Homo sapiens: one gene and its partners. The protein of the gene in region 6 purifies or fractionates together with the protein of the main gene of each other region. This does not show direct contact. Each region holds a gene or a part of one and is shown on either strand. Other genes may lie near its edges.

Region 1 (3,196 bases), on a different chromosome or scaffold from region 6:
ATGTCAGTTTTTCAGCAACTAAGGTGCCTCATGTTCTGAGTTCAGCAGATATAGGAACCAAGCCGCCCCCTCCTGCACTTGATGCTCCCACCTTTGTTGTGCCTCACTTAAAATGGTGCTTTTTTCAGTTGTCTGTCTTTTCTTATGTTTTTATTTGTAAGGTGCTGTATATAAGTTGAATATATTATGCACATATCCTACCCAATGGGTAGAACAAAAAGTTGTTAATACTGTAATATAATGTATAGATGATACCAATTTTAACAGAAATGGCATAGAATTTGTGAATGCCTATGTGCTTTGTCCTCTTTTGTAAGGAAATTTGCAAATGGATGCATACAGATTAAAGTCTATGTAGTTTATTTTCCTATTAAATATCAATATTATAACACAAGAGAAAGAAGTGTGAACAAACAAGCAACAGTTTATGACCAGCGTATATATAGCAATGGAAAGTTGCATCTTTGCTGTGAAAACACTTTAAAGAAAATACTTTTTAAAAAATCCCACAGCTTTTTGGTTGCCACTAGACGCTTCTTATTTTAATCATTTTAGTAATGCTCAGCTGGACCAGTGTTAGTTATATTTGAGTCAGAAAAATGTTGTTTTTCAACTTGCTTTATAATCTCCTGCATCTATCTCCTGCTGTAGCATCACGAAGGTGTCAGGCAACAGTGAAAAGTGCACATTTTTGTTGTTGCAGAAACTGTGTCAGAGGAATAAGTAAATCAGCCTGCAGCAGAAGACTTTGTTCAGCTCCAGAGGCATCTGTGACCGTCTGTGTCCAAGTCTCTCTGTGCCTTTTTCTTTTACAAACTGAAGCTGTGGAGCCAATGAAGTAACAGTAGAGATTGTAGGGAAAGAATACCTCAGGAAAAACAAATACACTTACAAGAAGACCCTGTTCTTAGAAAATGTGTTTAGTTATGGGTTAGCACTAGAAGAGACTTGGCTGTCAGCCAGCCAAGTGAAGGACCTCTCATCCATTCCCATTCATGTCCCATCATAATACGGACCCAAAAAGCAAACTCGGTTTTGCCATCAGTTAGAAATTACGTTTTGGATTGTATATTGTTACATCTCTCTTCCGGCTTAGTTTTTAGTGTCTGATTGTGACCTCTGCATTTATCTTCAAATACCCTAATTTTAAAACAAAAGAACAAGAAAAGTTTATAACACCATGTTCACTAAAACCACGGTTGAATCTTGGGTGTGGGCATCCTTTCGAGTGTTGTCCATAAGAGCAGTTCGTGGAATTTTGCCCATCTGACCCATATTATCAGCTTATTCTGCCACCAGAGTAGAGTCTAATAAATTCCAAAGTTTTTATTTGCTCCATGGTGTATGTTCTGACTTTGAAAATGTCAGATTCTATAATCATACCCCTAACATCCAGGAAACAAATGACAGATTATCTTTAAACTGAAATTGACTCTACAATGCAACCCTTAATGCTGAATGGATTAAAAAAGTCAGCCCTTTTAGTATCTGTTTGAAAGGGCCGTAAAAAGTTGACACTTTTGTTGTTGTGGATCCTGCGTGTCTAGACCCACGTGTTGTTTCCATCGTATACTGTAGGGTGCACCCCTTGGGATTCATCATTAAGAACTGAGGCTCACTGTTGTCAGAAACAAAGCTCCCACCCCCCAGGTTCAACCTTGTGGGAGAACTGTTGAGCATGAGAATGTTCTAGACTCAGAGGTACTAAAATTTGTTACCACATCATTGCTTCCTTTCTACAGGACGAATTGAGGCTTAAACTTTACTGTTAATGATACTGGTTCATTTTAATGTGCTTGTTGGTATGTTGCTATTTTTCATTTCATAGCTTTCAAAAATCATGCTAATTGTATACTTGTCTAGTTTAAGGCTATTTTAAAATATGTACAATACTATTCACAGCATTTAGTTCGTTTAATTTTTATTATAAAGCAATCTACTAAAAAAGTACAACTGTATTTGAACTTTTCAATAGTTGTTTGTGAGCTATGATAATCAAAAGTCATTAAAGTCTTTTTTAACAAACATTCGTGCTTACTTTTCAACATAATTCCCAGTTATATACAGAAAAAGATTTCCACCTGTCACGTATCTGCCTCTTTTACCTGAGCAATGGTGTAGTTCTTAGACCTAAGGTCTGTAATTGCAATACTTTTAAAGAAAGATGTTGCTCTAAGTGCTGTTTGTTAGTTATGAAATCAGATTTTTCTGCTTGTTCTTAATGCTGTGGTCAAACCATAGCACAAAATCATTAAAAATAATCAGCGGCATACATTTGTCCCTTGGGTTTTTGTTTTGTTTTTCTTTGTCTTTCAGCAACAAGGCACATGCATGGGGAAAATGCTGTGTGTTTTAAGACCTGTCTCAAAGAAATACTTCCTGTGGCTCCCTAGCTAAACTTCCCACTCAGCTTGTAGTCACTCTGACTTTTCAAAAAAATCACTACTTCATATTCTACTAGAAGCAATTCTGGTCAGATCATGATTCGTTTCCCAATGCTGGGTTCTACACAGGTCATTCAGACAGTCATCAGGTCCCCTCATGCAAGGAGTCCCCAGAGAAACTGCTCACCCCACCTGAGGCGCCCAGGGAGGACTTTCTAGATGCCTCAAAAAGTCTTTGGGTGGCTGTCACACAAAACCGAAATGCTCAGCCCAAAATATGAACAAGATTCCTAACAATGACAACTATTCCACAATGGAACAGACCCCCTCAGTGTGTGTTTTAAACTCCTTGGCATTGGAGGTCTCCAGTCAGTGATAATGTAACAACAGAGAGGCTCTAAATTTCCTACACCGAGAGACTAGAATAGTATTATCTCTATGCTCTAAATAAGAATATGGGTTCACAGATGATGACTGTGTGTGCATAAAACCCCACACGATCTACCAAACTACTAAAGTGGATTTAGCATGGTTGCAGGATATGCAATTTATTTTTGCATTTCTATGTACTTATAATTAGCAAATGGAAACTGAAATTTTGAAAATACCATTCAAAATGGTATGGGCCCCAAATTCTGGTATGGGCCCTAAATTCTAATGGTACATCCATTTTCGATTCTGAATTAAATTCTTTCTTTAAGATTATTTTGGAAAGGGGATTTGAAGAGAGCTATAAGAAGGAATAGAGCAATAGGAAAGTTTCTTTCCTGTCAAACAGCAAATAGTCACTAATTAACCACACCACACTCTGG
Region 2 (5,232 bases), on a different chromosome or scaffold from region 6:
CAGGCTGGGCACAGTGACTCATGCCTGTAATCCCAATACTTTGGGAAGCCAAGGCAAGTGGATCACTTGAGCTCAGGAGTTTGAGACCAATCTGGGTGACATGGCAAAACACATCTCTACAAACAAAACCGAACAAAAAAATTAGCCAGGTGTGGTGACACACACCTGTAGTCCCAGCTACTTGGGAGGCTAAGGTGGGAGGATGCCTTGAGCACAGGAGGTCAAGGCTGCAGTGAGCCATGATCGCACCACTGCACTCCAGCCTGGCCAGCAGAGTGAGACCCTGTCTCAAAAACAAGCAAAAACTGGCTGGGCGCGGTGGCTCACACCTGTAATCCCAGCACTTTGGGAGGCCGAGGCGGGCGGATCATGAGGTCAGGAGATCGAGACTATCCTGGCTAACACAGTAAAACCCCGTCTCTACTAAAAATACAAAAAATTAGCCAGGCGTGGTGACAGGAGCCTGTAGTCCCAGCTACTCGGGAGGCTGAGGCAGGAGAATGGCATGAACCCAGGAGGCAGAGCTTGCAGTGAGCCAAGATAGTGCCACTGCACTCTAGCCTGGGCGACAGAGCGAGACTCTGTCTCAAAAATTAAAAATAAAAATAAAATAAAATAAAATATTCTTTTTTTTTTTTTGAGACAGAGTCTCGCTCTGTCACCCAGGCTGGAGTGCAGTGGCACAATCTTGGCTCACTGCAAGCTCCGCCTCCTGGGTTCAAGCGATTCTCTGTCTCAGCCTCCCCAGTAGCTAGGACTACAGGCGTGAGCCACCACACCCAGCTAATTTTTGTATTTTTAGTAGAGACGGGGTTTCACCATGTTGGTTAGGCTGATCTTGAACTCCTGACCTCAAGCGATCTGCTCGCCCCAGCTTCCCAAAGTGCTGGCATTACAGGTGTGAGCCACCGCACCTGGCCATTTTTCTCTAAGAACGTCTTAAAACAATCTTATATAATAATTCATCTAAGTATGTGAGGCTTGTCTCTCTTTTACCTTTATAAACATGTGTTCATCCAAATATGACCTCAGCTTTCTTGTGTGAGAAACCAGCGCCACAGACTTCCAGCTTAATGTAAACTTCCAGTTTACATTACATTGGCAGTGCTGGAGAAACTGAAGACCCACTGACCCAGCACATGCACCCCGGAAGCACCAGATCTTGGCAGTAATAACCATTCCTAACTTTCTAAAACACAGTGTGCCACGAACAAAGTGTTTCACAAGTCTTAATTTACTGAGTCCTCACAACAACCCTATGAGGCCAATATTATTAGTGTTCCCATTTTACAGATGAGAAGCCAAAGGCACAGAGACCTTGCCGAAGACCACAAAGCCAGTAAACAGAAGAGTCGCGACTCAGAGGCGGGCAGCCTGGCTCCAGAACCCGCCCTCCTGTCCACTCTGCTCCCCTGCCTCTCAGGAAGACAGCTGGCTACACCAAGTGCAGGGAGCGAGGCGCCACCCCCATTCATTCACTCCAAGCATTTATGGCTACAGAGCCTGCGCCCAGGGCGGTTTATGGAATGAGTCTCCTCGATTTACAGCCACACCTCCTATCAAATCGCCTTTCCCTCCCCCGGCGCGAGAATCGCACCTTGCTCCTTGTGGATCGGGCGCCGCCGACGGAACCACCTGCTGTCTATAGAGGGCACCTAGGACGCAGCGTCCAATTCCCCTCACTGGCTTCAAAAGACAAATCTCCGTATTGTTGTACCAGGAGGCACGAGAAGCCTCACCACTGTAGGTTTTTCAGCAGAGGTCACTGGAGGTCTGGTTAAACCCGTACAGCACTGAGGGGGAGGGGGCCCGGCTGCGTTTCCGAAGCTGCGCAGCGCCCACAGCAGCTGCTGGTGGGAAGCGGCTCGGAACACACCCACAGCTGCCAAGGAGCCGGCTGCACGTTTTAAAATAAAAAACGTCCTGGGCCCCAAAATGCACAGCCCGCCTCTCTCGCCGCCCTGGGCACGGAACGCCGCCTCCACCCACAGCACTCCAGCAACTGGGAAGCAACCGGGAAGCAACCGAGGGAATTCCAGCTCGGGGGGCAACCGGGAGGGGAAGGCTCCGAGCGCCGGAGCCCCAGCCCGCGCCTGCCGCAGAGGCGAGGCCGCAGAGCCCACCCGCAGGCGGCCATGACCCCACCTGGAGACGCCCATGTCCGCTCCCTGCGCCCCGGGGACAAAGCCCGAGGCTGCACCGCAGCGCACCGCAGCCCTGCACCCGGGCCGCCCTTCAGGACGCGGGCACCAGACCCGACCGGCGGGCATCCACCTTGTCCCCACTCCGACGGCGCCCGGGAATGCGGCCGGTGCCCCGAGCTCAGGCTGGGCACACGTGCACCCACACCCACCACGGGCGGGGTCCCCTCACACCCCCCTCGGGCAGGGGCACACTCACACCCATCTAGGGCCGGGCACACTCACACCTCCCTCGGGCAGGAGCACACTCACACCCCCCTGGGGCCGGACACACCCACACTCCCCTCGGGCCGGGCACACTCATACCCACCGTGGACAGGGGCACACTCACACTCACTCTGGACAGGGGCACACCCACACCCACATTGGGGCCGGGCACACTCACACCCACCTAGGGCAGGGACACAACTCACTCTGGACAGGGTACAGTCACACCCACTTCGGGCCGGGCACACGCGAACTCACCCACCCTCACACTCCCAGCCCGGCCCGTCGGCGCGCACCCGGGCCCCGCGCGGCCTCGGCCCCTCGAGCCTCCGCGCCCCCCGCCCGGCCGGGCCCCGCACACCCACGCCCCCTCCCTCCACGGCCCAGTCACAGCCCCTCCCGCCGCTGCAGTCGCCGCGGGCCTGGATTCCTTGCGCTGCCGGGCCTGGAGCCTCCGCCGAGGCTGGGCCAGGACCACGGGGACCGCAGCGCCGGCCCCTCCGCCATCTTCTTGGCCCGCGCCGCCCACCGCCCGTTGCCCGCGCTCTCACCGGCCGGCTGCGCGCGGGCCGCGCCGCCACAGTCCCTCATCCCGGCCCGCGCGACGCGCGTGAGCCAGCCGCCGCTCCCCGGCCTCTCTGCTGCTCCGCCGCTGCTGCCGCGGCAGCCCGTGCTGTCGGCGTCCTCCGCCGCCGCCGCCGGCCCAGTGCGCGGCGGCCGCGCGTCCTCCCGTCACCAAGCGCAACCCCCCGCCTCCGGCTCCGCCCCCGCGGCGGTCACTACCCGCCGCCAGGGGGCACTGCCTCGCGAGGCCGCATCACGCATGCGCTGGCGCGCGGCATGCCGGGAGCCGGAGTCCCGCGGAGGGCGCGCGCGGCATGCTGGGAGCCGCCTGGCCCCGCCCCGTCGCCGCGCCAGAGGCCTCCCGCGCGGACCTACCCTGTGAGTTAGCGGTGTCTTCCCGTCTCTTTCGGTGCAGAGCAGTTACCATCTGACACGTCTCGGTGTGGTTTGGTGTAATTTTGCCCTCTCAAACCACGTTGGGCTTCCCGAGTCTGAGATTTCACTTTTCTTCGACTCTAGAAATACAGCCATTCTTCTCAAAACGTGGGCTGCCCTGTTCCTCAGTCCTTCTTGTGGCGGGCTCGTGTCTCTTCACCTCCTGTTATTCTCACCTTTTTAGTCCTGTCACTTTTACTCGGTAATTCACTCAGCTGCAGCTCGACTAGTGCTCTATTCGGCGTTTTCTAATCTGCGTTCAGCCTGGTTTTCTAGATTCTCTTAGTGCCAGGTGCGTTTCTGGAAATTGAATCTGACTGGCATTTCTGGAGAAACGGAGGCTAAACAGCCTGAAGCTTCGATAGTAGAAGACAGGGGCGCACACCCTTCAGTCCTGGACATTCCCTGGGTCCTCAACTGTGAGAAGCCGCAAAGGGCTGAAAGGCCCCCGTCAAAAGTCATCCGTGGAGCTCCACCTCCTGCCCTGCAGCTCAGTCGCCTTGCAGGGACTCTCCCGCCTCAGGAGATCTCCCGTCGGGCTGTCTCGCCGCCCGCGCTTCCCTGTTGGGCCGTCGTCACACTTCACTCTTCACTCTTATACACAGGGCTCTGCTTTTTCGCCTCCCGCTCCCTCTCCACTGTATTCACTTAGAAAACCCAACTGGGCGAGCCCAACCCTTCTCCTCCATGACTGCTGAAGAAAATCACACATCCAGGCTGACTGCCTTCACCTTAAACTTGTGACAACACACTGGCGGCGAGCACTTCCCACCCCCGTGACCACACACTGGCGGCGACCATTTCCCACCCCTGTGACCACGCACTGGCGGCGAGCACTTCCCACCCCCGTGACCACACACTGGCGGCGACCATTTCCCACCCCCGTGACCACGCACTGGCGGCGAGCACTTCCCACCCCCGTGACCACGCACTGGCGGCGAGCACTTCCCACCCCGTGACCACACACTGGCGGCGACCATTTCCCACCCCCGTGACCACGCACTGGCGGCGAGCATTTCCCACCCCCGTGACCACACACTGGCGGCGAGCACTTCCCACCCCCGTGACCACACACTGGCGGCGACCATTTCCCACCCCCGTGACCACACACTGGCGGTGAGCACTTCCCACCCCGTGACCACGCACTGGCGGCGAGCACTTCCCACCCCGTGACCACGCACTGGCGGCGAGCACTTCCCACCCCTGTGACCACGCACTGGCGGCGAGCATTTCCCACCCCTGTGACCACGCACTGGCGGCGAGCACTTCCCACCCCGTGACCACACACTGGCGGTGAGCATTTCCCACCCCGTGACCACACACTGGCGGTGAGCACTTCCCACCCCTGTGACCACACACTGGCGGTGAGCACTTCCCACCCCGTGACCACACACTGGCGGTGAGCACTTCCCACCCCGTGACCACACACTGGCGGTGAGCAGTTCCCACCCCGTGACCACACACTGGCGGTGAGCACTTCCCACCCCGTGACCACACACTGGCGGTGAGCACTTCCCACCCCCGTGACCACACACTAGCAGTGAGCACTTCCCACCCCGTGACCACACACTAGCGGTGAGCACTTCCCACCCCGTGACCACACATTTACAGTGAGCACTTCCCACCCCTGTGACCACACACTGGCGGTGAGCACTTCCCACCCCGTGACCACACACTGGCGGTGAGCACTTCCCACCCCCGTGACCACACACTAGCAGTGAGCACTTCCCACCCCGTGACCACACATTTACAGTGAACACTTCCCACCCCGTGACCACACACTGGCGGTGAGCACTTCCCACCCCGTGACCACACATTTACAGTG
Region 3 (4,450 bases), on a different chromosome or scaffold from region 6:
GAGTAAACAGGGCTGGACCCATACAAGGGGTGTAGGTTGAAAACTGAAAGCTTAGGAATGAACATCAGATTTCACATGTGCATTCAAAATGAATTAATCAATGTGGTGCTGATAAGACAAAAGATAGCCCCATTAAGGAGATTAAATTATAATTAACAAAAGATACACTGTTATCTAATTAAGTGCAATGAATCACACTGAACAAGGGATTGTTATCAGTACAAGAGGGCTAGTAATTGGAGTAAGGTTTTAAGAAGCAGCACAAAAGAAACAGAGTATCTCCAATGAGTTCCAGAAAGGGAACTTGACTGGCCCAGAGTCCTAGTCCTTAACAGTGGAGGGGAAAGGAAGGCATTCACATTCATCTCCTTGAATCTGCCTAACATCCCTGCAAAGTAAGCCTTCTTTCATAGAGGAAGACACTGAGGTTCAAAGAGGTTTCGCTGCTGGTGCAGAGTAAAGCCAGGACTCAAACCCAGGCCTATCAAATCCCAACACCTGAAGCCATCCAGCTCTCACGGGTGAATGACTTCAAGGAGCACTACTCACCAGGATCATCTAACTCCCTGGATCTTGACAGCATATTCTCTATGGAAATTTCTAATATAGCTTTGATTCCCCAAAGAGGTTTCATACAAAGAAAATGAGAGATTATGGTTCACCCAGTAGTTCTGTAACATTTCCTATAAAGTATCAGCAATAATAATTCAAGTAGTTATAGTAATGGGAGTAACTGCCAACATTTACTGAGCACTTACTATGACAAACACTTCTCTTTTCTATCTATAATCACTCCTTTGTGATCTTACCTAATTCCATGACTTTAAATACCATTTATACTAATGATCCCCAAATCCTTACCTTTAGCTTGGACCTTTTCCAAATGCCTACCCAATATCCCCACTTGCATGTCTATTCAGTATCTCAAACTAAACACATCTGAAACCAAACTCTTGATTCCATCCCTTAATCCTCCTCCTCCCCCTACATCTCCACATCACAGTAAATGACAGAACCATCCTTCCAGATGCTCAGGCCAAAAACCTTAGAGTCATCTTTGACTCCTCTTTCTCTCAAACTCCACATCCAACCAATCCATCAGCAAATCCCATCAGCTCTACCTTCAAAATATATTCAGATCCAATCACTTCTCACCACTGCCACCACCAAGCACTCAAAATTTACTCAACTTACTGATAATGTCATTTTAATCTTCATAATAACCCTGTGAAATTGGTGCTACTACTTCCTCCATTTTTCAGAGGCACATAAAGGTTAAGTACAAATTAACAAACTGAGATTATAGTTTACCAATCAGGTCTTTCTTTTTGAGTTTATAGAGTCAGATGCCTGGAATCTCCCCAGTATCAGATCGGGGGTAAAGATCCCACTCTTTACCCCCATCAAAGGGATCTAATTACCTTCCTGAACTTACAACGACTTGGACCCATACAAGACCAGTCCAGAGAGAGCTGGAGTAAGTATACACAAGCTTAACTGTCAAACACTGGTCTGATTGTGAGCTCCAAAGTCCCACCAAGGTCTCAATGCTGAAATTACCATTAGTTTCCAAACCGCATGCCTTAGTTTCTCTTTACTCAGTAAAGGGGTACCAGGTCCACACTTTTTAGACTTAAGAAAAGGAACTTGTTAGAAGGTCACATCATGAATCACTGGAAAGAAAATCAAGCTAAGAAATGAACCCCTCATGCACATACCTAGAAGGCAAACAACCCCTTTCTGTCCTAAAGACATTCTGTCTTTGAAAAGAAACCCATTTTCCTGAAATGGTATCACCTGGGAAAGGTCCAGAGAGGATCCAGGAGGGCCTCTGAGGATAAAGCTACCAACTTTCCACACGACTCTTTAGTGAGCTGATGGGAAAATGGGTGCAATAGGATTAGGGCAGGTTGGTTTCCACTCCTCTTCTGACCTGCACCTCCAACAAAACCAGTTTTGAAAATCAAATGAGTTGATAAATGTGAAATTCAAAGTTTCATATAAAAATAACCTTTTATTGTAAAAAAGAATACTTTGTTTTCTTTAGTGGAGTGGTAACACAGGGTAAGCTGCAAGGATAGAAAATTTTAAGACCCATCAGACAAAGAAGAAGTAAGCACTTTTCAGGGCTAAACACAGGGTATCATTTTAAAAGTCTGTATGAGCAAGATAAAATCCAGCCTATGTATTTAAAATATAGGGGTTATAGCTTAAAATCAGTGCCCCTTTTAAAAATTGTTATTTTTTCGATCACGCCACTGCATTCCAGCTCTGTCACCCAGGCTGCATGCAGTGCAGTGGCACAATCACACCTCACCACAGTCTCTACCTCCTGGGCTCAAGTGATCCTCCCACCTCAGCCTCCTGAGTAGCTGGGATTACAGGTGCACATCACCATGTCCAGCCAATTTTTTATTTTTTGTAGAGATGGGGTCTCCCTATGTTGCCCAGGCTGGTCTTGAACTCCTGGACTCAAGTAATCTCCTTGCCATGGCCTTCCAAAGTGCTGGGATTACAGGTGTGAGCCACCATGCCCAACCCCTTTTACTCAATAAGTCTGACTACATATCTTTCAAAGATCTGTATGACTTTACTGTGTACCTAGGGAAAAAAACAGAAGGAATATTCACCAAACTCTTAATGGTCACCTCTGGATGGCAGGAGCATATCAGGGCTTTCACTCTCTATATCATACTCTTCTTTGTCTGCAATTTTATAATCAGGGCGAACTAATTTTCTAGGAAGAATATTTGGGGGGGTAGAAAAACCTTTCCTCTAGTCTTACATTAACAGATGCAAGTTTCTATAAATAACATATTTCACTTTTTATCTTAATTTTGTTAATAAAATTTTCTCTTTTATGACATTTAATTTCCATTATCAGCTGGTTTCATCCTCTATAACTTGTAGGTTTTGGAAATGTTGAGTCAATGAATTCTAATGCCACTCTAGAAACACTTTCAGTTAAATTGTTCAAATATAATAGAGTACCACCTTGAGGAAATCTGAAATAGCAAGGATTGCAGAGTATGGAAGAAACTGAATCCCAGTCCCTCCCACACCCATTCCGGAATGCATATCACCATCACCCAGCATGTTACAGCATGCCTGATGTGTAAGCACTGTGTGAGGCTCTGGTCTCTGCCCTTGAGGAGCCTTCCACACAGCTTGAAAAAGAGGACACACATCCAACATCACAAGTCAGCTATTGGCTCCAGTAGCAAATACTACACATGGTACTGACAATGAGTTCAGAGGACGAAGAGAAAGGACTTTGAAATTCCTGCTTAAATAGGTCCTTTACAAGAAGAGGTAGCTCTTACTTCCATATTCCCACAGCTTAGCACAATAAGTAATTTTTTTTTAAGTTAATGAGTGCATGGGACCCACACTTGGAGACGAAAAGGTATGACATTCCAAGCTGGAAGAATGGTGGCAGCAAGAAAGGGCATGATTGGAATGTGCATGTTCAGCTATGTAAAGTGTAAAGAGAGGGATAGAAAGTTGGAAAACCCAATTTGTTGAACTCTCATCTCACAGCCAGTGAGAGACTACAGAGGACTTTGATTATGCAAAGGCGACCTATTTATGTAACTGTCTTCCTTTCTAGGTTCCCTGAGGAACCTGAGGGTGACAGCTGGGTCTTAAGGACTCTGGATCCCTACCATATCCTGGAACATGACAGGTATTCAATTAAATGTGAGGGAAAGGAAAGAAGGATTGATTAGGCTGGAAAGATTATGCTAATGCCACAATACTGAAGGTTCTAGAAAAATAAGGAACCAGAAATCAAAGTGAGAGGTGCTTTCTTTTTTTATAATTTTTTTTTAAGACAGGGTCTTGCTATGTTGCCCAGGCTGGTCTGAAACTCCTAGCCTCAAGTGATCCTCCAACCTTTGCCTCCCAAAGTGTTCGGATTACAGGGGTGAGCCACCATGCCCATACTGAATTATTTACTTAATGCAGATTCTTTGGGTTCCAACAACGATAGGATGATGATGATGATGATGACGACGATGACATATTCTGTGTGAGAGCAGGATGAACATGACAGTCCCAGCTTTAGGGAACTAACAGGTGGCTGGGTGAGCAGATTGTCTAAGGCTCATGTGGTAGGCAGCCCAGGTCTCCTGAATCCTAGGTGAGGTCCCTCCCAGCTAGGTGGGACAGCTTCCTCCCAGAGGCCAGAGGTGCTTTCTATCCACCATTTTTTTTTTTTTTTTTTGAGACAGGGTCTTGCTTTGTCATCCAGGCTGGACTGCAGTGGCACGATCATGGCTTACTGCAGCCTTGACCTCCTGGGCTCAAATGATCCTTCTACCTCAGCCTCCTGAGTAGCTGGGATCACAGGCACATGCCACTACACCTGGCTAACTTTTTTTATTTTTAGTAGAGACGAGGTCATGCTACATTGCGCAGGCTGGTCTTGAACTCCTAGGTTCAAGCAATC
Region 4 (4,034 bases), on a different chromosome or scaffold from region 6:
GCAGAGGGGCCAGCTCCCGGCATTCAGGAAGCCAGGACAGGACAAATGCTTCAAAAGCACCTGGACAAAAGTTGGATTCAACAAAAATTCCTTGTACTCCAGGCCAAAGCCAAAATTGTTTGGGTGGGGGCTGAAATGGAGGTGGCTAGAGTTGGGCAAGGAAAGTGATTCTGCTTGCAGTCATCAGTGAAATCCTGGAATAGGGCAGTGGGAATGGAAAAGAAAGTAAAAGATTTCAAAGGAAGAAAGACGTTTTATGATAAGGGATTCAGGAAATGGAGGTGACAGGGCATTGCTTAGTTTTCTAAGAATTCTATGAAGAATTCCGACAAATTGGTAGTTGAGAATTGAATGGGAAAGATTTGTTTTCTTCAATTTTGAATTTGATATGCTGGTAGTTCTGCCATGAATGTGACGAGAAGCCACTGATGGCCTTGAAGCAACTTCTACGAAATAGGGAGGAGTGAAGCTATACTACTAGGAGCTATGGAAATGGTTAGAAAGGAGGTAGAAGCAGCAAATGTAGACCACATACAAGGAATCTGACAGCAGACATGCTGAGGATAAAGCCTTGAAGTATGGCAGAGATTGATGATAGTAAAGAAGCTGCTTTGGTAAGAATACCTTTGAGAAGGAAGGTGACATGAGTGGTGCATGGGATACTGTGGAAGAAGTTATTTTAAAAAAGAATTGCATCTAATCAGAGGGAAAAATTTGGAAGGATAATGGAGGCTCACATCAGATGTTTTGGTCTTCACGTCATATAAGACAAAGTCATCCATAGAAACTGAGATGAGAGAACAACTTGGGAGTGATGGAAATATCTGGAAGTAAATACTTCGAGACATGTTTATGAGGTCAGATGCTGACTAAGAGCCACAATGAGGCTGTTCACAATGTAAAGATACTTCCAACCTCCTAGCATCTCTTCTCTCCTAGTAAGTTCTGCTGTTTCTTGGCTCTGAGAATCATTCTTTGCCTTTCATTCCTTAAGTCCTCTAGTATCTATTCCAATACCTGTAAGATTCACAGTGTTTGTTTCAGTTCGTCAAACTGATAAGACACAATTCAGGTAGAGATTTTTAAATAGAAATTTTATTGAAAGAATTTTGATACAGTTCATGATTCTTTTTAAATACATATGAAGTTTAACAAAATATATACATGAATGTGTTCAAGTAGAAAATGTGAAATATACATTATAGATTTGTTGTATTGCACTTGGGCAAATCATAATTGCTCACTTCAGCATATTCAAACCGAATCACAACATAGTCTTTGAAAGTTGACATTATAACTTAGCCTTGTACTCAAACATTTTAAGAAATGTTTTGATGCCTTAATCTTCACCAAAGGAATCAAACCCAAATACTAACTTGGCCATATGTTTAAATACCACTAAAGGCAGGGAGGTAAAGTGTTGTAGGGTGCTTAAAATATACTAAGAAGGGATTTGGCAATTTTCCATTCACAGTATTTCCAATATAAAAGACTCATCCTATTTATCAAACTCACAAAAGTTGGGGGAAAATATCACTTGGGAAAAAATTTCACTGAATTGCTATCAAAGGAAGCAATGAAGTTACTTGACAAACTATTGACAGGATGTCTAGTTCAAAATAGAATCTTCATTGAGGCTAACTGTAGCACAGTATGTGATACATAAACAAAATTCAAATATTAAAATTCTAAATAAAAAAATTTTCCCCGCTAGTATAAAGTAGAAGTTCTATAGTGGAAATAACAATGAAAACAGATGAAAAATCAGTGAAGAAATAGAGGGAGGTACTACTAAAATTTTGTGTTTGAGAGGAAAAAGAGAAAGGTAAAAAATAATTCTGGGAATATTTAAATCAGTAATTGAATACATGTAGTGATGTCTTTAAAGCACCTTCAAGAAAGACCTCTTTCATTTTGGATGACAATACATTAGGATAAATGAAATATGTGAATATGGCAATTTTCCATAAAAACAAAGGAGACTATGGAGACTGTCTGGTTCCTGATTTGGCCATACAAAATATAGAAAATTCAAGTGACCCAGGTTCCACAGTCCCAATTCTGTCAAATTCCGATCCAACAATTTGTAAAATGGATAACATCTGTATACTTCCACTGTATATGAAAAAGAATGAGCAGCTCATAGGGCTACTTAAAAAAAAAAATGGCCAAGGTGAATATATAGTCATTTATTTGTGCAAAAATGCCAAAGAAATGCTGAGATGTCTTCTGTAAAAAACAGTAAATTACTGGTTTTACCTATCCCTAACCCTTATTTTTGACACAACTATCTAAAATGTTCACTAGTTAACCAAACATTTACTCAGCATGTGAATCCATGCTAAGTTTGAGGATAAAAGGATGCAGAAGAGAAAGATATTCTTTATTACAAGCTTTCCAACATCATGATCAAAATTACAAATAATTTTCAAGGCTGTTGTAAGAAGTCAACATTAAATGTTAAGTTTAAGCATAGATTACTACTATTTATGAAACAGATTTCTTCCTTTTGAAAGGTGTGTATAAAATGTGATGTAAATCAAATCTACTTATCCTTCTCCTGCAGTGCAAAATTACTTGTACTTTTGGGGAAGATAATTCCCTAATAAACTAAATTAAGGTCTCTTGGATAGAAATTCAGTTTCTCTCTTCATACAGCCACAAAGGGTACTATCTTTTCATTCAGTCCCTTAAGCAGCTTACTCTTCAATGCCAACAAAACTTTATTTTTTAAATAGTCTTAAAAGTGCTTAAGGGAGTTCTGGTTCCTCTTTTTAGCCTGCACAGTTTAAGATCAATGGTAAAGGTAGGAAATAATCATAAGGGCACTGGAAGAAGGAATGAGTCTAAATAATGTATAATGACTGTTCCGCCATACCAATTTTGTCATGGTGATTATTCACTAATTTTATAGGAGAGTGTATTGAGATCTGCTACAGCTTCTTGGATCTTTGAAGCACTGCTGAATTACATACACAAAGCAGAGCAGATGTCAGCACCTGATTAATCAGTACTCTACTACTGGCTAGATTCCCCAGGCAAGTCACTTAAATTATCTCCAAACAGCTTCCTCATCTGTAAAATAAGGATAAAAATTCCTTCCTCACAGAGATGTTATGAGAATTAGAGGAGATTTGAAAATGCTCCGTCAATCATAAAATCATGCAAAATTATTCCTTTGTAGAAATTTGAGGATTAAATGTAATAACATGAAGGCCACACTAACCGCCTGGCACATAAATACTTAATAAAAGTTATTCCCCATTCTCACTTTCTGTGTAATTTGCAGTTAGGAAATATAAATCAAAGACACCCTTGTCAGACTCACATCCATTTGGCTTTAACTAGAACTGTCCTTCCCTGCTCCTTTTCTTTTTTTTTTTTTTTTTTTTTTGGATACATAATCTTTCACTGTATTTGAGGCTATCTTGAGTCTCTGGTTGAGATCTGGGTCACTAAGGCTTCTGGGGGATCATGTCTTCAACAAGCCTTCCAATGAATGTCCAAAGAAAAACATATAATTTCCTTTTATTTTTTTTTTTACCAAAGTTCTTATGAATTGGAAAATAATTTGTTTCAAAGACGGTGATGAAAGGAAAAAAAAAGTTTAACTTTCCAAAGGTAATGCTTTCATGAAGAGTTAGAAATAGCAGTTTTAGTAATTAGTTGTAGGAATTCTGGTTAAGACTTCAACATTTTACCTTACTTAAAAGATTTGCTTTATGCAACATTTAATGCCCAGTTTTGCATGGCTCTAAAAATCTTTAAAATGCAAAAGCTTTTCCAGTGACTGGAAGCCAACACGACAAGAATGAAATGGTATGACCTGTGAATTAGCCTGGTTTATAAAAAAATACCAGTTCAGAGACCATAAACAAAATAAAGAAACTAAGCAATCCTTAAATTGGATTTAGCCTTGGGCAATTAGCAGAAAAATTCACTCATAAAAGGATCCATTTTACAGATATTGTTTTTTAAAATGTCAGGAACTGGTTTTATAAGAGTAAAAAAGTTAAAATTAATTGCATCTTCCA
Region 5 (4,450 bases), on a different chromosome or scaffold from region 6:
CTCAGGTGATCCGCCTGCCTTGGCCTCCCAAAGTGCTGGGATTACAGGCATGAGCCACTGTGGTGCCCGGCCTCCTTTTATTTTAATAAGTCATTTGATGTCATGCTGTTTAATGGTTTTTGCTTTTTTTTTTTTAAAGTTCACAGCTGTGGGTGTAGGAAAAAAAGTCACTACCAATCTTACCAGTCTTCAGTGTCTGATTAGATTGAAAAACATAAATCTGTTGCCAGCTTTGACAGCACTTCTTAGATAACTTTGTTGAAACTGAGTTTTCCGGAAGCTGTCTCGTGGCATATTCGAGTTCTGGCCACTCTCCCCTCATTCTGTTAGACCCTGAAAATTACTGGATTCCATTGGCGCAATGACCGGTGAAACTTCAACCTGTCCTTACCCAAGCCCAAGACTGTTTAATTAAAAAAACCAGCAGTATCCCCAGCCTTTTCATTCAGCTCCTACACCCAGGCAGAGGGGGGAACAAAAGCACTGGGACTGTTTCTCTTTCTTCCCTGACCTTTGGAATTCCTGAAGCGTTTCCCACTTGCTTGTAAATCAGGAAAGCCTGTTGGACCGTTCCTTTGAGAAACGCCAGCTCATCACTTGTTCTCATTTGGCCCATGGCTAAATTCGGCCGGGGTGGTGTGGGGTGGGAGGGTTTCTCCCCTTCCCTGGGCAATTTTAGATGTTCTCTCTGTGATATGCCAAGGTAATCATTCCAGAAGTGGGAACTGGTAAATTGTAGCTCTTAAGACTTCAAGAAGTGCTTCTGGGTCCCTCAGGATGAGTTGGGCACAGAGGAATGGAGCGTGGGGAGGCTGAATGGCTGGCTTTCCAGAATGAGGAAAGAGAAGAGAGAGCGGGTGGGCATGGTTTCCTGCATGGGTCATCAGAATCACCCAGTTCCAGGTGATAGAAGTCAGAATAGTGTTTTTGTGTCTGGAAGTGGTGAGGATTGACTGGAAAGGACCCGGGGGAACCTTTTCAGGGTAGTTGAAATGTCCTGCAGAGTGGCTGGAGTATGTTTCATTTTCCAAAACTCCTCAAATTATAACTTTATGCATTTCATGCTATGTAAAATTACCTCAACTAAACAATGAACCCTGGCCTGTATCGGACAGCCTACATAGCCAGCTGGGATTCAAACCCTTGGCCTCCCTTTTACCAGCAGTGTGACACTGGGCATGTCGCTCAGTGCCTTAGTTTCCTCATCTGTAAAATGGGACGTAAAGTACCTTCCTTAAGAGATGGTTGTGAGGACAGAATGAAACCTTGTGTTAACATTTAGCTATTTGCCTATGTAGGTGCCATCTTAATCCAGAAAGGATTTGAGGCACCAACTAAAAGTTCTTTTTTTGTGTGGCCTACCTTTTCCCCCACATTCTTCGATCCTTGGATTACCCCACAGTTCTCAGCCCTTAGCCCTCTACCAATGAGGTCTAGGGCAACATTGGACCCTGGGACCCAAGTCCTAGCCCCGCATTTAGACTGTACTGCACTTAAGCCTCTGTTTTCACTTCTACCAAATGGCAACATGTCACTAGCCAGCAGGTAAGGGGTAAGGCTGTTCTGCCTCATCTCCCATACCAGTAGCTCCTAGACTGTGCTATTTGCCTGTTTTGATTCCTTCACCCCAAGTTTGTAGGACCTGAAGAAATCGCGTTGAGCAGTACTGCTAACAGAGCTCAGATAAGAGGCTGTTACCTAACACCTGGGAGCCTTGTGGAGGTTGGCTGGGGGTCACGTGACTGCACCTGGCCATTGTCTCCGGCAACCGGAGAAGGCTGTTAGTAGTCTCTCGGCCCTGGTCTCCTGGTGACATCAGCACCTGGAAGCAGGGAAGCCCCACAGGTTCAGCTTTCTGGGGAGGCCCAGGGCTAGGAGAATTCATGAATGAAACTGAGGCTTTGAGTGGCCTGGATGGAGAGGCCTGGGAATGCCTGCTCAATAGCCCCTCTGTCAACACAGTGTCTTGGGTACCTACCAGCACCCAAGAGAAAACAAAGTTTGCTCTGGTTAACTTTGGACACGTTTTTCATTCTCTTGTAGGAAAATTATTTAAGAGCCTTAACCCTAGCATCAGGCAGACAAGTTCAAATCCCCACTCTGCCACTTCCTAGTGTTATTATGTTGGGCAAATGACTGAAACTCTCTAAGCCTTGATTTCCTGATCTGTAATAAGGGGATGGTATTTTACCAATTTGGGGGAGATTTAAATAAAACTATGTATATAGAACAAGCCTAACATATGTCTATCATTGTGCAGATGAGGCCCAGATCTGAGTTTGTGTGTGGACATACGTACGTGTACCCATGCCCTTAGTGCTGTACATCTCTACTTGTGAGAGTAAACCATCCGGTTTGACGCAGTGGCTAAAGTTGGAACTTGGTACTAGGGCTGAGAGCTTGTGCCCTTTAAGTTCAACCATATTTGTTCAGGCTGCTTGTGACCCCTGGTGCTAGCTGCAAAATTCAGGATACTGTGTTAATTATTCATAGGTTAGAAACATCCTCGGGGAAATAGGAGAGTTTCTTTACCTCCCAAAAAGCATTTGAAGGATAACTTTTACCCCAGTGCACTTGAAGGAGAGTTTATGTTTCCCTTTTGCAGATGTAGAAGCTTAGGATAAAAGGGGAAATTTTACTTGTTGGTTGAATGAATTTGTATTGGCGCAAAAATCTTGGGAAAAAACAATTTTTACCTATGAACTTAAGTAATTTCCATCTTTTGGCTGCAGTATATGACACATGGGGGCTTTGAGTCCTTAAAAATTATACAAACAGGCTGGGCACGGTGGCTCACGCCTGTAATGCCAGCACTTTGGGAGGCTGAGGTGGGCGGATCACAAGGTCAGGAGATCGAGACCATCCTGGCTAACACAGTGAAACCCCGTCTCTACTAAAAATACAAAAAAATTAGCCAGGCGTGGTGGCGGGCGCCTGTAGTCCCAGCTACTGAGGAGGCTGAGGCGGGAGAATGGCATGAACCCGGGAGGCAGAGCTTGCAGTGAGCCAAGATTGTGCCACTGCACCCAGCCTGGGCAACAGAGCCAGACTCCATCTCAAAAAAAAAAAAAGAAAAAAATACACAAACTATGTTCATCTTAGGAGAATAGGAATATATACAGATGAGCAAAATAAAACTTGCCTGTGATTTTACCATGTGGAGGTAGCAATGTCAATATTCTAGTGCCTTCCGAATGTTATCTATGATATATATTAATACGTGTCCTTAATGTATTAATATTTTTATACAAATATGGACTCTTGCTATTGTTTTTTAGCATGGGTCCATATTTGTATAAAAATACATTAAACATATATAAAAACATTTAGCATGTTTTTTAACCTGTGATAAATTAGGGATATCTCTCTGTGTCAATACATAGTTTCTTGATTTAGCTTTAAATTTAGGAAGTTTTTGGAATATGACCAAAAGTTGGGGGCTGGCTTTCCCAAAGGAGGGGGGCAAGGTTACTGTAAGCCTAAATTATAACTCTTTTTAAAATTCTAGCAAGAATTGGTTATCTTTCTTCTTCCTTTTTTTTTTTTTTTGAGATGGAGTCTCACTCTGTTGCACAGGCTGGAGTGTAGTGGCTTGATCTCTGCTCATTGCAACCTCTGCCTCCCAGGTTCAGGTGATTCTCCTGCCTCAGCCTCCCGATTAGCTAGGATTACAGGCGCATGCCACCATGTCTGGCTAATTTTTGTATTTTTAGTGGAGACAGGGTTTCACCATGTTGGCCAGGCTGGTCTCGAACTCCTGACCTCAAGTGATCCTCTCACCTCGGCCTCCCAAAGTGCTGGGGTTACAGGCATGAGCCATCGTGCTTGGCCAGTTTCTTTTTTTCTAGTTGGAAGTTTTTATGAAAAGGAATCCCTGGGGGCCCACACTTTAGACTTGGAACTCTTGGAACTCTCCAAGTTCCGACCAGCTACCATATTTATGTCGTGTCCTCTGAGATCCTGATACTAGAGTGTTGGCCTTTTAAGTTTTAGGACTATCATATAAAGATGATTGTTGTTCTGAATGACAACTTTTGGGGAAGTGCAGTTGTTTAGCGGTTATAATAACATCTTCCTGTGGTACAGAAGCAAGTACAGTCCACGTTTGCTACTGCAGATGTAGGCTTCATGGAACCATATAGACTTTGAAGGCCGGAAGGATCCTGTAGCCATTTTGCAGATGAGAACACTGAAGCCCAGTGAGCTTTGGCTGGGCTTGGGACCTGGGCTAGAACCCATGTCTCTTGATTCCCATTTTGTACAGCATGGAAAGGTGGGAGTTACGGGGGTGCTGGGCAGAGTGGAGATTGAGATGTGCCTGCCTTAACTGTAGTTGAGGCTTTTGTTTTGATTAGTGTCCTGATAGCTCTCTACCCAGAGAGGCTTAGTTAAAGGAGGGAGTCGTAATAATCACGGTAAGTAGCTTAATTACTCATACAGTAAATGTCAG
Region 6 (4,450 bases):
AAAAGGGAAAATACTGTATGATTCCACTCAGATGAGGTACCTCGAATAGTCAAATTCATAGAGAAACAGAATGGTGGTTACCAAGGTCTGGGATGAAGGGGAGAATGATAAGAATGATGACTTTAATGGGTGTAGTGTTTCAGTTCTGAAAAATAAATAATGTTCTGTGGATAGACAGTAGTGATGATTCCACAACTAGTGGAACATGTGAATGTACTACTTAATACCACTGAACTGCACACTTGAAATATTTTAAATGGTAAATTTTATGTTATGTATATTTTGCCACAACTTTTAAAAAATAAATAATTTTTAAAACTCAGTTGAATTTCTATAGCTTAACAATTAACATACAGACTGAAATTAAAAATACATCACTGTTTACAATCATTACAAAAATGAAATACTTAGGTATAAAAGCTAACAAGACATATATATGACATGTGCTAAAAACTATAAAACACTGGCCAGGCGCAGTGGCTCACGCCTGTAATCCCAACACTTTGGGAGGCCGAGGCGGGCGGATCACGAGGTCAAGAGATCGAGACTATCCTGATCAACATGGTGAAACCCTGTCTCCACTACAAATACAAAATATTGCCAGACGAGGTGGCTCACGCCTGTAATCCCAGCACTTTGGGAGGCCGAGGCAGGTGGATCACCTAAGGTCAGGAGTTCGAAACCAGCCTGACCAATATGGTGAAACCCCGTCTCTACTAAAAAACACAAAAATTAGCTGGGCATGGTGGCCTGCGCCTGTAGTCTCAGCTACTTGGGAGTCTGAGGCAGGAGAATCGCTTGAACCTGAGAGGTGGAGGTTGCAGTGAGCCAAGATCGTGCCACTGCACTCCAGCCAGGGTGACAGAGTGAAACTCTTGTCTCCAAAAATAAATAAATAAATAAATAAATAAATAATAAAATAAATAAATAAATAAATATATATATATAAAATTAGCTGGGCATGGTGGCACATGCCTGTAGTCCCAGCTACTCGGCAGGCTGAGGCAGGAGGATCGCTTGAACCTGGGAGGCGGAGGTTGCAGTGAGCTGAGATCGCACCACTGCACTCCAGCCTGGTGACAGAGCAAGACTCCATCTCAGAAAAAAAAAAAAAAGGAAAAAGAAAGAAAGAAAAAAAATTGGTTGGGCACAGTGGCTCACTCCTGTAATCCCAGCACTTTGGGAGGTTGAGACGGGCGGATCACCTGAGGTCAGGAGTTCAAGACCAGCCTGGCCAACATGGTGAAACCCCGTCTCTACTAAAAATAGAAAAATTAGCCGGGCATGGTAGTGGGCACCTATAACTCCAGCTACTCAGGAGGCTGAGCAGAGACAATTGCTTGAATCCGGGAGGTGGAGGTTGCAGTGAGCCGAGATCCTGCCACTGCACTCCAGACTGGGTGATAGAGCGAGACTTCGTCTCAAAAAAAAAATAAAAAAAAGAAATAGAAAAGGAGAACCACAAAAGACTCCAAAGAGATCCTGAGCAAAAGGAACAAAGTTGGAGACATCACACTACTTGACCCTAAACTGCAATGCTCTAGTAACCAAAACAGCATGGTACTGGCATAAAAACAGACATACAGACCAATGGAACAGAATAGAGAATCCGGAAATCCATGTATTTACAGTCAACTGATTTTCAACAAAAGCACCAAGAACATACACTGGAGCAAGTGCAGTGTTTTTAATAAGTGGTGCTGAGAAAACTAGATATCCATTTGCAGAAATAAGGAGCTAGACCCCCTAACTCTCACCATATATAAAACCAACTCAAAATAAATTAAAGATATAAACGTTTACACCTGAAACTATGAAATTATTAGAAGATGATGTAGGAGAAATGCTTCAGGACATTGGTCTGGGCCAAGATTTTAGGAAGACCTCAAAAGCACAGGCAACAAAAGCAAAACTAAACAAATGTGATTATATAAAACTAAAATGCTTCTGCACAGTAAAGGCAACAATTAAAAGAATAAAGAGGCAACCTGTAGAATGGGAGAAAATATTTGCAAACTATTCATCTGACAAGGGATTAATATCCAGAATATACAAAGAACTCAAACAAGAGCAAAAAACCCCCCACAAATAATCCAATTAAAAAATGGGTAAATGAATTGGAATAGACATCTCTCAAAAGAAGACATATAAATGGTCAAGAGGCATATGAAAAAAAAATCCTCAATGTCACTAATCATCAGGGAATTGCAAATCAAAACCACCATGAGATACCATCTTGCCCTAATTAGGATGGGTGTAAGCAAAAAGACAAAAACTGCTGGGCGTGGTGGCTCACACCTGTAATCACAGCACTCTGGGAGGCTGAGGCAGGTGGACTGCCTGAGCTCAGGGGTTCGAGACCAGACTGGGCAACATGGTGAAACCCCGTCTCTACTAAAATACAAAAAATTAGCTAGGCGTGGTAGCGTGTGCCTGTAGTTGCAGCTACTCAGGAGGCTGAGGCATGAGAACTGCTTGAACCTGAGAGGCGGAGGTTGTAGTTAGCCAAGATGATGCCACTGCACTCCAGCCTGGGCAACAGAGTGAGACTGTCTCCACAAAAAAAAAAAAGACAAAAACTAACAAATGCTGGTGAGGATTTAGAGAAAGAATTCATATACAAAGTTCTTGGAAATGTAAGATGATATAGCCACTATGAACAGTATGGAGGTTCCTCATGGGAGGAATAGGATTAATGAACATAGGAGTGCAGATATGTCTGACATATTCATTTCCCTTCCTTTGGATATACCCAGAATCAGGATTGCTAGATTATATGGTAGTTCTAGTTTTTGTTTTTTAAGGAACCGCCATACTATTATAAACACTATTCACAATAGCCAAGACATGGAATCAACCTAAGTTCCTATCGACAGATGAATGAATAAAGAAACTGTGGCATGCATATACATACATACATACATACATATATATGGTGAAATACTACGTAACCACAAAAAAGAATGAAATTCTGTCATTCATGGCAACATGGATGAGTTTGGAGGATATCATGTTCAGAGAAATAAGGCAGGCACAGAAAGATAAATAACACATGTTCTCACTCATGACGAAGCTAAAAAAGTTGATCTCATAGACGTACAGAGTACAATAATGGTTACTAGAGGCTGGGATGGGTAGGGGAAGGTGGGTGTATCAGACATTGGTTAACAAATACAAAAGTACAGCCAGATAGGTGGAATGAATTCTAGTGTTCTATAGTGCTATAGGGTGACTGTAATGACTATTATTTTTTAATTTTTTTGAGACAGAGTCTCACTTTGTCTCCCAGGCTGGAGTGCAGTGGCGCGATCTTGGCTCACTCCGCCTCCCAGGCTCAAGCAATCCTCCTGCATCAACCTCCCAAGTAGCTGGGATTACAGGTGTGTGCCACCACCCCGGCTAATTTTTTTTGTATTTTTAGTAGAGACAGTGTTTCACCATGCTGGCCAGGCTGGTCTCGAACTCCTGACCTCAAGTGATCTGCCCGCCTTGGCCTCCCAAAGTGATGGGATTACAGGAGTGAGCCAACATGCCCAGCCAGGTGACTGTAATTAAAAACAACTTATGGTACATTTTCAAATAACTAGAAGAACAGATTTTGAATATTCCCAACACAAAGAAATGATAAATGTTTGAGGTGATGGATATGTTAATTACTCTGATTTGATCATTACCCATTGTATATGTGTATTGAATTATCACAGTGTACCCCATAAATATGTATGATTATTATGTGTCAAATTAAAAATAACAAACAAAAATTTTTAAAAACCAAAGCAACATCTACACTCAGCTTTTATAATTAATATAGAAGCAACACTGGCATTAGAAAATTATGATTTTGCAGTCAGTGCAGAAATAGCTGATTCAGACAAGAATCACTGGGTGCTAAAACTAGCAGATGAGATATTGATGAGAAACAGAGTATTTACATAGTCTCAAAGTACTTCCCACAAATTATTACAAGGGTCAAATGGTAAGTTTATTGTGGAGAGACCAAGCAGACACCACCTAACCAAGCGATCCAACTTATCACCAGTAATAGGACAAACAGAAATCCTATGCCTTCTTTTTTTTTTTTTTTTTTGAGATGGAGTCTCACTCAGTCTCCCAGGCTGGAGTGCAGTGGCGCGATCTTAGGTCACTGCAAGCTCCACCTCCCGGGTTCAAGCCATTGTCCTGCCTCAGCCTCCCCAGTAGCTGGGACTACAGGCGCCTGCCACCTCGCCTGGCTAATTTTTTTGTATTTTTAGTAGAGACGGGGATTCACCGTGTTAGCCAGGATGGTCTCGATCTCCTGACCTCGTGATCCGCCCAACTCGGCCTCCCAAAGTGCTGGGATTACAGGCGTGAGCCACCGCGCCCGGCCCTGTGCCTTCTTATATGATACACTGAGAGAAAAAAACCATCATACCAATGGTATGCCTGCCAAAAATGAATAATTTTTTTT
Region 7 (4,450 bases), on a different chromosome or scaffold from region 6:
GGATGGAAAAGGACCTCGTCCAAGCTAGTGGTGAAATAACGACTACTACTCACCGAGCACTCATCATGTCACAGGCTCAGTGTTGCTATTTGGAAGCCATCATCTCATTCTTTCCTTGCCACACTGGGTGGGGAAGTCATAACCATTTTACAGATGAAAACACTGAGGCCCAGAGAGTTGTGTGCCTGGCTAGAGGTCCCAGGTCTGTAAGCGGCTGAGTTTGGATTCAATGGTTTGACTCCTAGCTGCTATCCGTACTCTCCAGGAGCCAAGTCTGAGTGCAAATATTGAGACTCCCTGCCTTGATGGGCTCTCCTTTCATAATCAGGAATGCCCTTGAAGACCATCTAATCATCTACTGCAAAGTTCACAAAGCTCTCAGGGTGAGTCCTGCCAGCAGATGTGCCTTTTTTTTTTTTTTTTGACATATACAGTAGTTTAAAAATAATCTCAATCAGTTGCCAAAGTCAAAAAATAAGAAACATTTCTGGTTTCTCTTGAAAAAAGTAAAGAGGAGGTCTGGTACAGTGGCCTTGCATTCATTATTTTTTTTTGAGACGGAGTCTCACTCTCTTGCCCAGGCTGGAGTGCAGTGGCACAATTTCGGATCACTGTAGCCTCCACCTCCTAGGTTCAAGTGATCCTCCTGCCTCAGCCTCCCAAGTAGCTGGGATTACAGGAACGCACCACATGCCTGGCTAATTTTTGTATTTTTAGTAGAGTCAGGGTTTTACCATGTTGGCCAGGCTGGTCTCGAACTCCTGGCCTCAGGTTATCTGCCCGCCTCGGCCTCCCAAAGTGCTGGGATTACAGGTGTGAGCCATTGCGCCCGGCCTGGCCTTGCACTCCTAAATGCTTATTAGAAACCTGAGTGGAGTGGCAGCCGCCCTGTGGGTGGGCTTATGGTCTCCAAATTGCCAAAGTCCTCACTATTCCCTGTGCCACTTCCAACACTCAGGCAAGTGTCAATTGCTATGCATCATCACACTTGTGTTATTATTTTTTCTTTTTTTTCTTTGAGACAGAGTCTCGCTGTGTCACCCAGGCTGGAGTGCAGTGGCGCAATCATGGCTCACCGTAGCCTCGACCTCCTTGGCTCAAGCGATCCTCCTACCTAAGCCTCCCAAAGTGCTGGGATTACAGGCCTGGCCACTGTACCCAGCTATTTTTCTAACAGTACAGTTAAGGATAAAGTGAAGTGACTAGAGACCGATGTCTCTATGAAAGGCAGGAGAACAAAGTCTTTTGGAAAATGGCTTGGAAAAGCCATGTGTTGCAAGAAAAATGGGCAAAGGGACATACCTTGGTGGCAATGACAAATACATCTATGAATTTACCATGCAAAATGTGTCTTGCCCATTTCACTCATGTATGCATCTCTTTGGCCCCTGAGACAGTGATTTTGTGACCCTTAGTTGAGAACAACCATCTTGTTGTGCAGATAAGGAAACTGAGGTCCAGGAGCTAACTGGCTTCATGCCAATTAGAGGGGCTGGGATGATGATGCCCAAGTCGGGCTGCTCTTTGGAGCTTACCTCTGCTGGCTGGCTGGTCGTCCCCATGACTACTGCTGCCAGCATCCTTCCTTGAGCCCCTCCTCCCACTAGCAGGGCGCTCTCTGTTGGGGGGCTGGTTAAAGATGTCTGAGTCATCACTGTGGACTTTGGTGGTTGCCCTCTGGGGTCTCTCCTTGGTGTTGACACTCCGGCTGGTCCCCCACCCTGGCTCATGCCGTAGGCCTTTATCCCTGGCCTCGGTCTCTCCAGGACCCTCACCGATGACATCGTCTGATGGGAGCCTGCCCTTCCAGGCCAGGGGCTTCTCGGGACTAAGCCAGAGGGGTTTTGGCTTCCTGCCTCCCTGCTTCCTGTCCTTGCCGGTGGGAGAAGGTTGTAACCAGGATGGGGTTTTCCCGGGTGGCTCACAGATTTTTCTGCCCATGAGGTTTTCCAGTTGTTGGATGAGAGAGGGCTCCTCATGGACAGGAGGGCACTTCACAGGTGGGGAAGTGGCAGGAGCACTGGGCATGTCACCCATCGAAGTGGGGACTGCCGACAGTCTCAAATATTCCTCTAACTGGGACAAACTGTCTTTCCTGCAATTAGTAGAATTCTTTCTTTTGCCAGACACATTTCCTTGTGAAGAAAGCTTTGCATCCGCTAATGTTTCAGCTGGCGGTGAGCAACCGAGACCAAGCTCCTTGTCCCCGCTGGCACCAGCCATCTCATGGGTGCCTTTGCTTTCTTCCGAGTGAGCGTTCATGGCCTCCTCTAGTTGCTCGCTCTTCTCGTTCTTCTGGTCAACCAGGATGCTGTGGTCAGCTGGGGCCTCCCTATCTCCTTTGTCTAACTTGCCATTGAAGATGAGGTTTCTGTTGACGTAAAGCTTCACGTTCTTGGCACCAATGTCAAGATCCTGAAACCATAAGATTTAACAAAGTGAAGATGCATAGCATCAGACTGATGTATGAAATTTTGGAAGTCGAAGATACCAAAAAAAGAAAAGAAAATGTGAAATGCTAGAAATGCAAGCTTTTGAAAACCACAGTGCTGGGGGTGTGAAACTAGGCTTGGTCTCATTTCTGTGGGAACCGCTACATACTCTATAAATCAAAGGACTTTCACAAAGAGACGGCCTCAATCGCTGCCTTCGTCATCATTACCTCCTGTCGGGACATTCGTAATAGCCTACTAATGGGTCTCCCTGCTTCCTGTCTCTTGCTACTTTAACTTGGACTTCACATTGCCACCAGAGTTCATTTCCTACCAGAGCAAATCTGTCCAGTCATTCCCCTGTGTGAAATCCTTCATGTTTTTTCACAGCCTATAGCAGTGTTCTTTAAAGTCCAGTTCCTGAGACCATCTGCGTCGAAAAGCCTGGAGTGCTTATAAAACAGCTTTCCTGGCCTCCGTGGGCATCATAATTGGGAGACCGTAAAAGCAGAGGCTGAGACAAGGACTCGGGTGCAAGTCGAGTATTTGGCAGGTGATTCCAAGAGGAAATGGGGAAAGCAAGATAGGGCAGGAAAAAGGAAAAACCCAGTTTTTTTGAGCTGGTCACTGCTGTGGCCAACTGGTGCTCCTTCCCACGGGGGCCCTCTGCGGCACTCCAAGATCTCACTTTCCCCAACCCTAGTCTTCACCTATCTTAAAAATGGCTCCATCATTGAAGCAGTGGCCAAAAACCTCGTGGCCCCCTTGATCCCTCTCTTTCTCACTTGCCCATCCAATCCGCCAGCTGTCCCTCGCCTCTCTCTCCAGAACACTTCCTGGGTCTGACCTCTTTACCTGGAATGTGCTGCTGCCTTCCTTGCCCAGGCCACCAGGGTCTCTACCAGAGACACCACTGCCGCCTCCTAATTGGTCTCTCTGCTTCCACTCTGCGTTGTCTCCTCCAAATCCCTGCACTCACACTTCATTTTCTATGCAGCAGTGAGTTTTTTTTTTTTTAACTGAAATCAGATCATGGGAGTCTTCTGCTTAAATGCATGTCGCAAATGTCTCTCCAAGACTGGGACATTTATCCACTGCTTGTTGAAGGCTGCCCTCAGGGCACTGATGCCCCAACACATGCACGAGCTGAGTGTGCTCCCACGGCAGAGCACCCCACGAGCACCTGAGGCAGGGCACTGTCCACATGCGGGGACTGTCCCATGTTCACGGCAGCTGCAGTTGGAAGGGAGCCAGGAGGATGCCGTGTGAGGACCACTGCCTCAAGGCAGCCTGTAGGTAACTTCTGGACTCAGAACAAGTTCTCCGGATGATTTCTTCACACGACGGGGTGCAGAACCATGCCGATGATGGGATAAATTCCAAAGCTCTCCACATGACATACAGTAACCTTCACAAATGGTCCCCACCTCGCTCTCCTCTCTCACTGCCAGCCTAAATGCCCCTATGTCACGCAGGTTCAACTCTCTTCCTTCCATGCTTAAGATAAAATCACATCTCCTGCTACTGTTTCACTTGTGTCATCCTCTTTACAGCAAAACTCTTTTTCCAGCTTTATCGGGGAATAGAATACACACCCCATACAATAAACTGTGCATATTTAACGGGTACAGCTTGATCAGTTTTAACATGTGTCTACGCCAATGAAGCCATCACACTCAAGAGAACAAACGTACCTATCACCCTAAGGTTTCCTCGTGCCCCTTGGTAACCCCTGTCTCCCCTTCCTCCTTCCCTGGCTCCAGGCAACCACCCACTTATGGTCCCTCCCTATATACTGATCGTCCTTTCTGGAATGTTTACATAAAGGAATCATGTTGCATGTAGTCTTTTTTGCTCGGCTCTTTCAGTCACCATAACTGCTCTGAGATTCACCTGTGTTATGGGAACTGATAGTTCCTTTCCTTTCTACTGCTAAGGAATATTCCATTGCAGGGCCCCCCGCATGATCTGTCCGTCACCCCGTCAGTGAATCTCTGAGTGTCACTGTCCCCGTGGGC

The links.
Region 1: the proteins of KATNA1 (region 6) and LDLRAD4 purify together in Homo sapiens (affinity purification with mass spectrometry; one large-scale study listed by BioGRID and IntAct). This does not show direct contact.
Region 2: the proteins of KATNA1 (region 6) and ARHGAP39 purify together in Homo sapiens (affinity purification with mass spectrometry; one large-scale study listed by BioGRID and IntAct). This does not show direct contact.
Region 3: the proteins of KATNA1 (region 6) and ENOPH1 purify together in Homo sapiens (affinity purification with mass spectrometry; one large-scale study listed by BioGRID and IntAct). This does not show direct contact.
Region 4: the proteins of KATNA1 (region 6) and SLC30A7 purify together in Homo sapiens (affinity purification with mass spectrometry; one large-scale study listed by BioGRID and IntAct). This does not show direct contact.
Region 5: the proteins of KATNA1 (region 6) and CCDC88C purify together in Homo sapiens (affinity purification with mass spectrometry; one large-scale study listed by BioGRID and IntAct). This does not show direct contact.
Region 7: the proteins of KATNA1 (region 6) and KATNIP purify together in Homo sapiens (tandem affinity purification; one large-scale study listed by IntAct). This does not show direct contact.

The regions. Positions count from the first base shown.
Region 1 is NC_000018.10:13,650,482-13,653,677, forward strand, and holds the end of LDLRAD4 (low-density lipoprotein receptor class A domain-containing protein 4 isoform alpha 1), read left to right. Parts: 3' UTR 1-2,270; downstream 2,271-3,196. UniProt on the Homo sapiens protein: Functions as a negative regulator of TGF-beta signaling and thereby probably plays a role in cell proliferation, differentiation, apoptosis, motility, extracellular matrix production and immunosuppression.
Region 2 is NC_000008.11:144,682,727-144,687,958, forward strand, and holds the start of ARHGAP39 (rho GTPase-activating protein 39), read right to left. Parts: upstream 3,121-5,232; 5' UTR 2,960-3,120; intron 1-2,959.
Region 3 is NC_000004.12:82,436,462-82,440,911, reverse strand, and holds part of ENOPH1 (enolase-phosphatase E1), read right to left. Parts: intron 1-4,450. UniProt on the Homo sapiens protein: Bifunctional enzyme that catalyzes the enolization of 2,3-diketo-5-methylthiopentyl-1-phosphate (DK-MTP-1-P) into the intermediate 2-hydroxy-3-keto-5-methylthiopentenyl-1-phosphate (HK-MTPenyl-1-P), which is then dephosphorylated to form the acireductone 1,2-dihydroxy-3-keto-5-methylthiopentene (DHK-MTPene).
Region 4 is NC_000001.11:100,978,797-100,982,830, reverse strand, and holds the end of SLC30A7 (zinc transporter 7), read right to left. Parts: 3' UTR 1,074-4,034; downstream 1-1,073. UniProt on the Homo sapiens protein: Zinc ion transporter mediating zinc entry from the cytosol into the lumen of organelles along the secretory pathway.
Region 5 is NC_000014.9:91,411,062-91,415,511, reverse strand, and holds part of CCDC88C (protein Daple), read left to right. Parts: intron 1-4,450. UniProt on the Homo sapiens protein: Required for activation of guanine nucleotide-binding proteins (G-proteins) during non-canonical Wnt signaling. Binds to ligand-activated Wnt receptor FZD7, displacing DVL1 from the FZD7 receptor and leading to inhibition of canonical Wnt signaling.
Region 6 is NC_000006.12:149,617,055-149,621,504, forward strand, and holds part of KATNA1 (katanin p60 ATPase-containing subunit A1), read right to left. Parts: intron 1-4,450. UniProt on the Homo sapiens protein: Catalytic subunit of a complex which severs microtubules in an ATP-dependent manner. Microtubule severing may promote rapid reorganization of cellular microtubule arrays and the release of microtubules from the centrosome following nucleation.
Region 7 is NC_000016.10:27,738,006-27,742,455, reverse strand, and holds part of KATNIP (katanin-interacting protein), read right to left. Parts: intron 2,416-4,450; coding exon 1,536-2,415; intron 1-1,535. UniProt on the Homo sapiens protein: May influence the stability of microtubules (MT), possibly through interaction with the MT-severing katanin complex.